Regions from separate parts of the Homo sapiens genome. Here regions 2 and 3 are each linked to region 1. A link means that fine-mapping ties the variant in region 1 to the expression of a gene that starts in the linked region. Tissue or cell type: fibroblasts. Region 1 holds a variant in brackets; each other region holds the start of a gene. All regions are shown on one strand. Distances are between the middles of the regions.

Region 1 (2,758 bases):
TGTAGCCAGAATTGAGAAAAATGATTGAAGATCCCGCAGCCTCTTGCCCACTGGCACCCTACCATGGATGTTTCAGCAATGAATGGGGTCTCCTCCCGCCTTTCCCTGTGCAAGGTGAGCCCCAGGAGAAGCAGGGGGCAGCCAGAGCCAGTGGGGAGACCACCCTGATACCTGCCACCCACCTTGTAACCTATCCCCAGCCTCACAGCCCCTCCATAAGCTTGGAGTGAACCTCCTCTTACCGTCGGGTCCATGTTCTACCGAATTCAGCTCAGGGATCCAGGCTGGGCAGACAATCATAGGAAACAGCATATTCTTGAACTTCATCTCAATGCCTAGAGAGAAACAAGAAGCTGAAGTTGTAGGCCCATTGTTGTATCACCAGGGCAGGCCTTAGCAGCTTTTCTCACCATTACACACAGGATATATGACATATCCACAATCATAATATGCTCTCTGGTGACTGTAGGTGTCTGGGAATAGGAAACTCAGTAGACCAGGGGTGGGATTAGATGCAGTCTTTGGACTGTCAGCCCAAAACTAGGTCTTTCTTTCCCTCTCAAAAAACCTACCTGAATTCAAATGAAATGAGTTTGAATTCACTCTAGTGTGTGTGTGTGTGTGTGTGTGTGTGTGTGTGTGTTTGTGTACATTAGAAAACACAGGAAATTAAGGTATGTCAGGAACCCTTCTAAGCACTTTCCCTATTTTAACTTAATTAATGCTCACAACAACCCTATGAGGTACTATGATTTTTCTGTTTATAGATGAAGAAGCTGAGGCACAGAAAAGTTAAGTTTCTTGCCCAAATCACACAGCTAAGAATAACCAAATTTCAGTACTGGAATGATTATTCGTGTTGGGGTATAATCGTAATAAAAACATGAAAGTTTAACATTAAAACAAAAAAGGAAAATGGGAGGGAAAACTTCAAATCTGTCCTCCAGTTCCCACTATCTGCCTGAGTTCTTCAAGTTGTCTGGCTTTGCGGGGCCACACATCTGTGTGTGGTTTCTGGCCTTCCTGACTAAATGAGTCAGAAGCCTCTGTTAAACAAGTGTGCCTCTGTTCCTTAGACCCAGTTGGCTCAGCACCTCTCCCAGCCCTGCCAACAGTGTATAGATGGAAAAGGTTAAAAAAGAAATACCTGTGACCTCTTTGCCCCCCCTTCCCCCCAGGTGCTGTTTAGGATTTCTGAAGGGGGCCCTAGGCTTTGTGGATCCCCAGATTCCAGAATCTTCAAAGCTCCCTTCAGAAATCCTAGAAGCACCTGAATACCAGCCCCTTTTGAATATCAGCTTCCAGGACAAAGAACACAGATTGAAGCAGCAAGTTCTACGTTACTAAGGTTTTCTCTTTGTCTGCCTTCCCCCAACACTCTGCGTTGACTGGAGGTGACTATGCTATTGGGGTATGTATAAGAGAGAAGGGAGTGGCGCAGAAGGAAATGGTCTTGAGAAATCATTTCTAATTGTGGAACTTAGGTAATCTTTGTTATTCATTTCTCTTGGAATCCAACTGGGCCCAGGACATTGGATG[G/A]CTCATGGCAGGGAGCATGCAAGTGTGAAATGATCCCCTTGAGGCTGGGGTGGGGGACCACATGAGCCCATGAGTTTGAGGTGAGCTATGGTGACATTGCACCACTGTATTTCAGCCTGGGCAACAGAGTGAGACCCTGTCTTTGAGGAAAAAAAAAGAAGGACCTCCTAAGATTCCCCCAGCCACCTTAAATCAAGCTACACCTGAGCTACATGAGCCATGAGTCCTGTTGAGCCATGGCCATCAAGATCACATTTCTTGAGGTGTGTCTCAGCCCACCCTGCTGCCTCAGTGTGTCACAAAACCACAGTTGGGGACTCTATCTTATGTATATGTGCGCACGAGGGAGGCGTCCATTCTGACTCCATCAGCACTGACCCAAGCCAGGCTCTCCTCTCTGTGGCTGAGGAGCCAACCAGAACTCAGGGCTTGGCAGCTCCTTCAGGAACCAGAGCCAGGACCTGACTGCTTAGAAGGAGAGCATGCCCCTCCACAGCAGAGGTCCTCAGCTGTCCCACGGTCTCCTCCTTAGATCCTCACTAGGCTTGGGATCCAGCAAAGTAGAAATAGGCCATGCCAGGTTTAGAAATCGACAGAGATTAGCAGGGACCTGGGAACCTCTCCCCATCTCTTACAGCACTGGGGCTGAGAGGTGCATATTCTGAGTCTCCCAGCCTGTTCAACTATTCCAGGCCTCACGTCCTAGGTGGTAGCACTGACAGGGCAGGTGGCCATGGTCATAGGCAACACAAACACAGTCACACCTGGAGCTCTCCTCTTCTTTACCTTATCACATCCTCCCCCAGAAAAAGTGGGGTGGTGGGGTCAAAAGCGACATTTATGGAACCTCTAGTGTCCATCAGCCACTGGCCTAGACACTTTGCTTAAATTAGTTCCTCCTCCCTTAGACTAGAAGGCCCTTGAAGGCAAGGAACCATGTCCAATTGAGCTTTGTATCCCAAGCCCCTTCCAGAGTACCTGGCTCATGCTCGGTGCTCTGTAAATGTTTGTGGAGAGAAGTCAACTACATGCAAGGATCTCATTTCACACCCAAAACAATCCTTCAAGGAGTTGTTAGTATCCCCATATAAAAAACAGAAAATGAGGGTAGATGAGGACAAGCAACTTTTCTGAGGTCACACATCCAGCAAGGGGCTGAGCCAGGCCTGTGGGACTCCACAGCTAGGGGCCTTTGCAGGAACTGGAGTGTCCAGGGATT
Region 2 (2,500 bases), 30 kb after region 1:
TCAACTCAATGCAAAAATGCCAATATAGAAAGACAAATAAAATTGCCCTTCTTTGGGGGACACTTTGGGCACATTCATCACGCACAGTCCACACAGTAAGTTACAATGTGCAACTATGGGACTCTTTTACTATCCTTTTCATTCCTAAGTGGGAAGTTGAACAGGTATGAGCATCTCAGCAGTGTTGTAGGAGGGCAAATGGAGGCTAGTGACCATGTAATATGCTTGCCCCCTCTCTCTCTGCACCACATTAAAATTTGCAAAGATTCTCACTCTTGTCCAAGGGCTGGTACCCATGTCACCTTCCCTAAGTCCCTGTGTACCAATAAGGTAAATTCAAGTAGGTAACAGATTTGCAGCTTACATGTAGAACTCACTGTGTGTGGGTGGGGAGTGGGGGGAATGCAGGAGATGCCCTTTATGAAAAAAAAATTGTGGTTTGCCACAAGGTGTCAGTATATGTCACCTCACAGTGAATCAGGACTGGCTGTTAAACCTATATATATAATATATTAGAATCAAAGGCTGCGTACATCTTATATCCTGATAAAAGCAGGAAAACACATTCCTGTTCCTTCTCTCTGTAAAGAGAGCAACGTAAATTTTAGGATATATTTGATTAAAGACAGAAATAGAAGTGTGGTGATGACCTCAAATCTCACCTAGAACTCAACTCCCCTTTCTCATTCTGTGCCAATCTCCACTACTGCAGAGAGTTGGCAGCTAGCTCACAGATGCCTCTCTGCTTGCCTCTCTCTCCCTCATTCTTTGGCCTCTGAGTATCTTGTCTGTGCTCTAGCCCCGAGAAGGTCTTCTTCCCTAATGTTACCAAAATGCAGCGACACCTTTAAAGCGAGAGAGAGAAAGACAGAACAAGTAAGAGGGGACAGGAAAGACAGAGAACAAGATATGGCTCTGCCAGAGGACACATTTCCCCTCCCAGGGAGAAGGGACACAAAACCAAAGGTCAGCTCCTACTTACCTTTCTGCCATTCACAAAGAAAACCAATTTGTCTGCTGTCATTGTCACAGGTTGGGGTCCCCGAACTCCAGGTACCTCACTCCTAAGAGACACTGGCAGGTAGTTATCACTGCTCTGTGACCTGAAAGTTACGCCTCCCAATAAAATGAAATAAGGTCCACCAATGGGAGGGAACCAGCTCAGAGCTTCAGGGCATGAAGAGTTCTTGGCAAAAGCCACTGGTTTACATAATCAAGGAAGTGCAAACAATCACACACAGCAAATTACAATCTCCACACCTGTGTCAAAGAGCACAGGAAACTACATCCAGATATCAGTAAGGTTGTTGACTTGGCACTAGGCGACTGTGGGTCTTGGGCGCTGCTCTTATGAAACCTGCTTCGTCCTCCCACTTGCTGCAAGACAGAGAAGGGGAAGACAGAGGAGGGAAAGGACTATTCTCAGAGTCACTGCTAATAGAGCTGATTCACACCCTCTGTGTCTACATTTGTCATTTTACCATTCAGGTTTACAGCAACACAGACTGACTGCATGAATGCAAGAGTCATTCTTTCACAGCCTGGTGGAGCAGAGAGGTCACAGGACATGGAGCCCCATGAACCTGACTCAAATCCTGGCATTTGACCTCAGCATGTTACTTACTACCTTCAGAACTCAGTTGCTTTCATCCTGTACAGGATCATAGAATGATATCAAGAATAGAAGAATGAGGGACAAATGACATTTTGGGAGTGCCTTGTAAATTTGCAAAGAACCAAAACATGTATCACTGTTGAAAAGACATCTTCAACATCTCAACAAATAAAATCCTAATAGCAAACTATTTTTGAGATTTGTCTTTTATTTGTTTCTCTCAGGAAAATATCCTTGACAAGTTGTCAGAGTAACTCATAAAAGTATTTCAAAACACCAAATAAATTAAAATGCTCATACCACATAGTCATAGGCTACAGTAACACATAGCTGAAAACCTTTCCCCATCCAATATCCATTAACTCTCAGTGGAAACACAGATGTGCACGTCCACTGGAGCAGCACTAAAGGGCTCTCTGCAGTCCAGCACCCTCCCAACTGCCCCTACCAGTTCTTTAGTTCAACACACACACACACGCAAAAAAAAAAAAAAAAAAAAAAAAAAAAACACACAGAGACCAGCATTCACTCTGGTCTTCTTCTGTCCTGTAATGACCCATACAGTGGCTCAGCCAGCCTTCCTTAAGTAAGACACCTCCCCTACAACCCTAGCAGGCTACCTGAGGGGGAAGAAAGGAGTATTAGGCAGATGTACTTGATATAGCAACAGCTTAGAGAAACTGAAGACTGACAGGACAACCACACAATCAACACAATGCCCCCTCTCACCACAGCCTTAATTTAACCAGGAGATGAAACTTTACTTGTTGGTTGACCAAATATCCCAGTTTGCCCTGGACTATCCTAGTTTTAGCCTTGAATCCCTGACAAATGCCTCAGAGATCCTAGTAAATCCTTCAGTCCAGGGCAAACTGGGATGGTTGG
Region 3 (2,500 bases), 250 kb before region 1:
AATCCCCCAGAGGCCTCCTTCCGTGTCCCCGGGCCAAATCTGTGAAGAGAAAACGGAAGGCTACCATGTCACGAAAAACTATGATCAAATAAATTATTATGCCTTTTCTCCTATTGATCTGCCTTTTGTCAACTGATTTTCAGTGAACCTTCGGAGAGCCATGGGGAAGTTTTCCCTTTCCCCCTACAGGGCTCTGAATCTGAAGGTAAGAGTGAGCCTATAGGGGGAACCTTCTGGCTCCCTCACAGGAACTGACTGAGCAGGAGTTGGAAAAGCCACTTGGATTCCCATTTCCTCAACTCCCCGCCAATACCAAGGCGTCTGTTTTTACAGGCTCTTTCGTGGTGTTCTGGGCACATTCAACTTCCAATGCAGCTGAGAGGGTCGGGAACAGTTAGAGAACAGGGGTGGCAGCCGCCCGGGAGGCTGCAAGGCGCTCGCCCGCAACGCACAGGCGCGCGCGGCGCACCCGGCCTCCGGCCTCCCCAGGTCGGGCCTGGCAGCTGCGGGAAGGAGGTCAGCGCAGCCGCCACACTTCGCCCGGGCGCTGGCCCGACCCGACCGCCGGCGACTCTCTGGCAGCGCCCGGAGACCGCCAGCCCCTGGGCCGCCCGTCCGCAGAGCCCCCTCCGCCCCGGGACCCTCGCGCGCAGCTCAAGTTGGGAGCCCCGCTCCGCAGGCGAGCGCGCGCCCACCACCCACACCCACTGCCACTCATGCACACCGCGGGTCCGGAGATGCCCCCGAGCGTTTTAAAATCCAGAAACATCACATGGTAGCCACATCCGGCGGCTGTTACCTGCTCGCAGCACCCAGACCCTCGCCCTGGTTTCCCGGGAGCCCGCAAACCCGGCACGCGGGCTGCGCGCCCTCCCGCAAGCCACCGCTCAGCGCCAGCGCGCCGGCAAGCCGCCTACCTTAGGGGTCTGCACTTCAGGTCCCGTCGGCACCTCCAACTTCCTCTTGGTTACCCAGAAGAACAGCAGCACCGTGATCCAGAGCACCCCGAAGACTGGCAGAACCAGCCGACGAGTCAGGCGCCGCATGGTCCCCTTTGCCGCTTCCTCTCCGCGGCGCTACGTCCCGGGGGCACCCCCCGGCGGTCAGGGTTGGCGGGGCAGGAGTCCTGGCGAGCGCCTCGCTCTGGGGAGCTCTAGACCCAGGATCCGGTTGGAGGGGCGGCAGGATCCTGCAAGGCGCCCTTCCCGCTTCGAAGAGAAGCGAGCCTGGGTGGGGGGTGCAGGGCGACCCGAAACGTGGCAGGGAAGGACCGAGGGCAGCCAAGCTGGACGCCCGCTCCAGCGGGAGAAGCGCGGTGGCTGCCGAGATGTTCCCCACGCCGCCACCGCGGCTGCCGCCGCCGCCGCCGCCGCCTTGCCCGCTGCCGCCGATAGGGAAACTGACTCGAGCAGCGAGAGGGAGGAATCCGAGGCTGTGCCAAGCACCCCGGGAGGAGCACGAGGGCGGAGGGAGTGAGCGGGGAGGGCGGGCCCGACAGACAGGCCGACTCGGAGCGAGCCCAGGTGGGAGTGAGCGGGGCTCTGAGAGGGGGCGCTACCGCCGCCCGCCGACCGAAACGCTCGGTGCTGTTGCGGGGCCGCCAGCGCCAAGCCCTGGGCGCAGCTCCCAGACCATCGTGGGTTGGGGCAAGGCGGGGCGGGGCGGGAGCGGTGCACTCGGGATGCCCGCCACCCCCAGCTGCCAGCTGGGACCCAAGGGCCGGCCCTCGCCAGGCGGCGCTGTGCCTGGGAGGACTTTCCCGCTCATCGCGGGGGCTGCACGTGGCGCTGAAGCCGGGGTCCCACCCCCAATGTGCTCGTCCTACCACAGCCAAGGCTGGGATTCCAGGGCGCCGGCAGGGCTGCTGCCCCAAACCCGCGGTTCACTTGCCTGGCTACTGAGGGCCAAGGCCGCGGTCAGCCAACTCCCCAGGGTGTTTCTATGCCTGCCTGCAGGTGCCTGGTAACTTTTTCTGCTTAACGGAAGGAAAGCTGAGCTGGTCTAATTTTAACTTTAAAGATATCCTTTAAAAAATTAAGGCGCAATTATCTCCCATAAAGGTTTTCTCTCCCTGTAAGCATCAGGGCTTTGTGCTTGCAAGAAAAGAGGTCCAAAGTTGGAACAACCACTTGGGATTCTTGGAAAGTGACCCTGGGCAGGAGGATACTGGGTGCAGAGGGTGATCTTTCAAAAGCCCCTTTTCCCAAGGGCCTTTGGGAATTGTATCCCCCTCCCACTTGCAGATTAAAACCGCTTGGATCTAGAAGCAAAGCAAATTCTAACTCCAATTCCCATGTAGGCTCAAGTAGGCTGGAATCACGGCCAGATCACTGACCAGAGAGTACTGACCTAGCTGTCACACTCACTGTGTGAGTCTTGGGTAAGTCATTTACCTTCTCCCAGTCTTCGATTCCTCATCTGTAAAATGGAGGGAAAATACCTCCTCTGACAAGCAAATGAGTAGTGGTGAAAGCTGAATGCAAGGTGCTGGTGTTATCTG

Direction of the effects. Alleles are on the strand shown, and positions count from the first base shown. SD is a standard deviation of normalised expression in the study named. Not every link is listed here.
As copies of G replace A in region 1, the expression in fibroblasts of the gene that starts at base 1,100 in region 2 goes down (large effect, 1.0 SD a copy in GTEx).

What was found. PIP is the estimated chance that this variant, and not a neighbour inherited with it, causes the effect.
Region 2: it holds the start of XDH, and the variant in region 1 is fine-mapped to the expression of XDH in fibroblasts (GTEx, PIP above 0.99).
Region 3: GALNT14 starts here. The variant in region 1 is fine-mapped to the expression of GALNT14 in fibroblasts (GTEx, PIP above 0.99).

The regions. Positions count from the first base shown.
Region 1 is chr2:31,383,513-31,386,270 of GRCh38, forward strand. XDH (xanthine dehydrogenase) reads right to left here. Exons shown (of 36, transcript NM_000379.4): 10 at 243-335. Among named protein-coding and RNA genes, the nearest start is that of XDH, 30 kb to the right of the region's middle. RefSeq lists an enhancer at 1-56. The variant G/A (reference allele first, on the strand shown) is at 1,540.
Region 2 is chr2:31,413,643-31,416,142 of GRCh38, forward strand. It overlaps XDH (xanthine dehydrogenase), which reads right to left and starts at 1,100. Exons shown (of 36, transcript NM_000379.4): 1 at 983-1,100. The coding sequence starts at 1,024.
Region 3 is chr2:31,137,041-31,139,540 of GRCh38, forward strand. It overlaps GALNT14 (polypeptide N-acetylgalactosaminyltransferase 14), which reads right to left and starts at 1,400. Exons shown (of 15, transcript NM_024572.4): 1 at 918-1,400. The coding sequence starts at 1,046.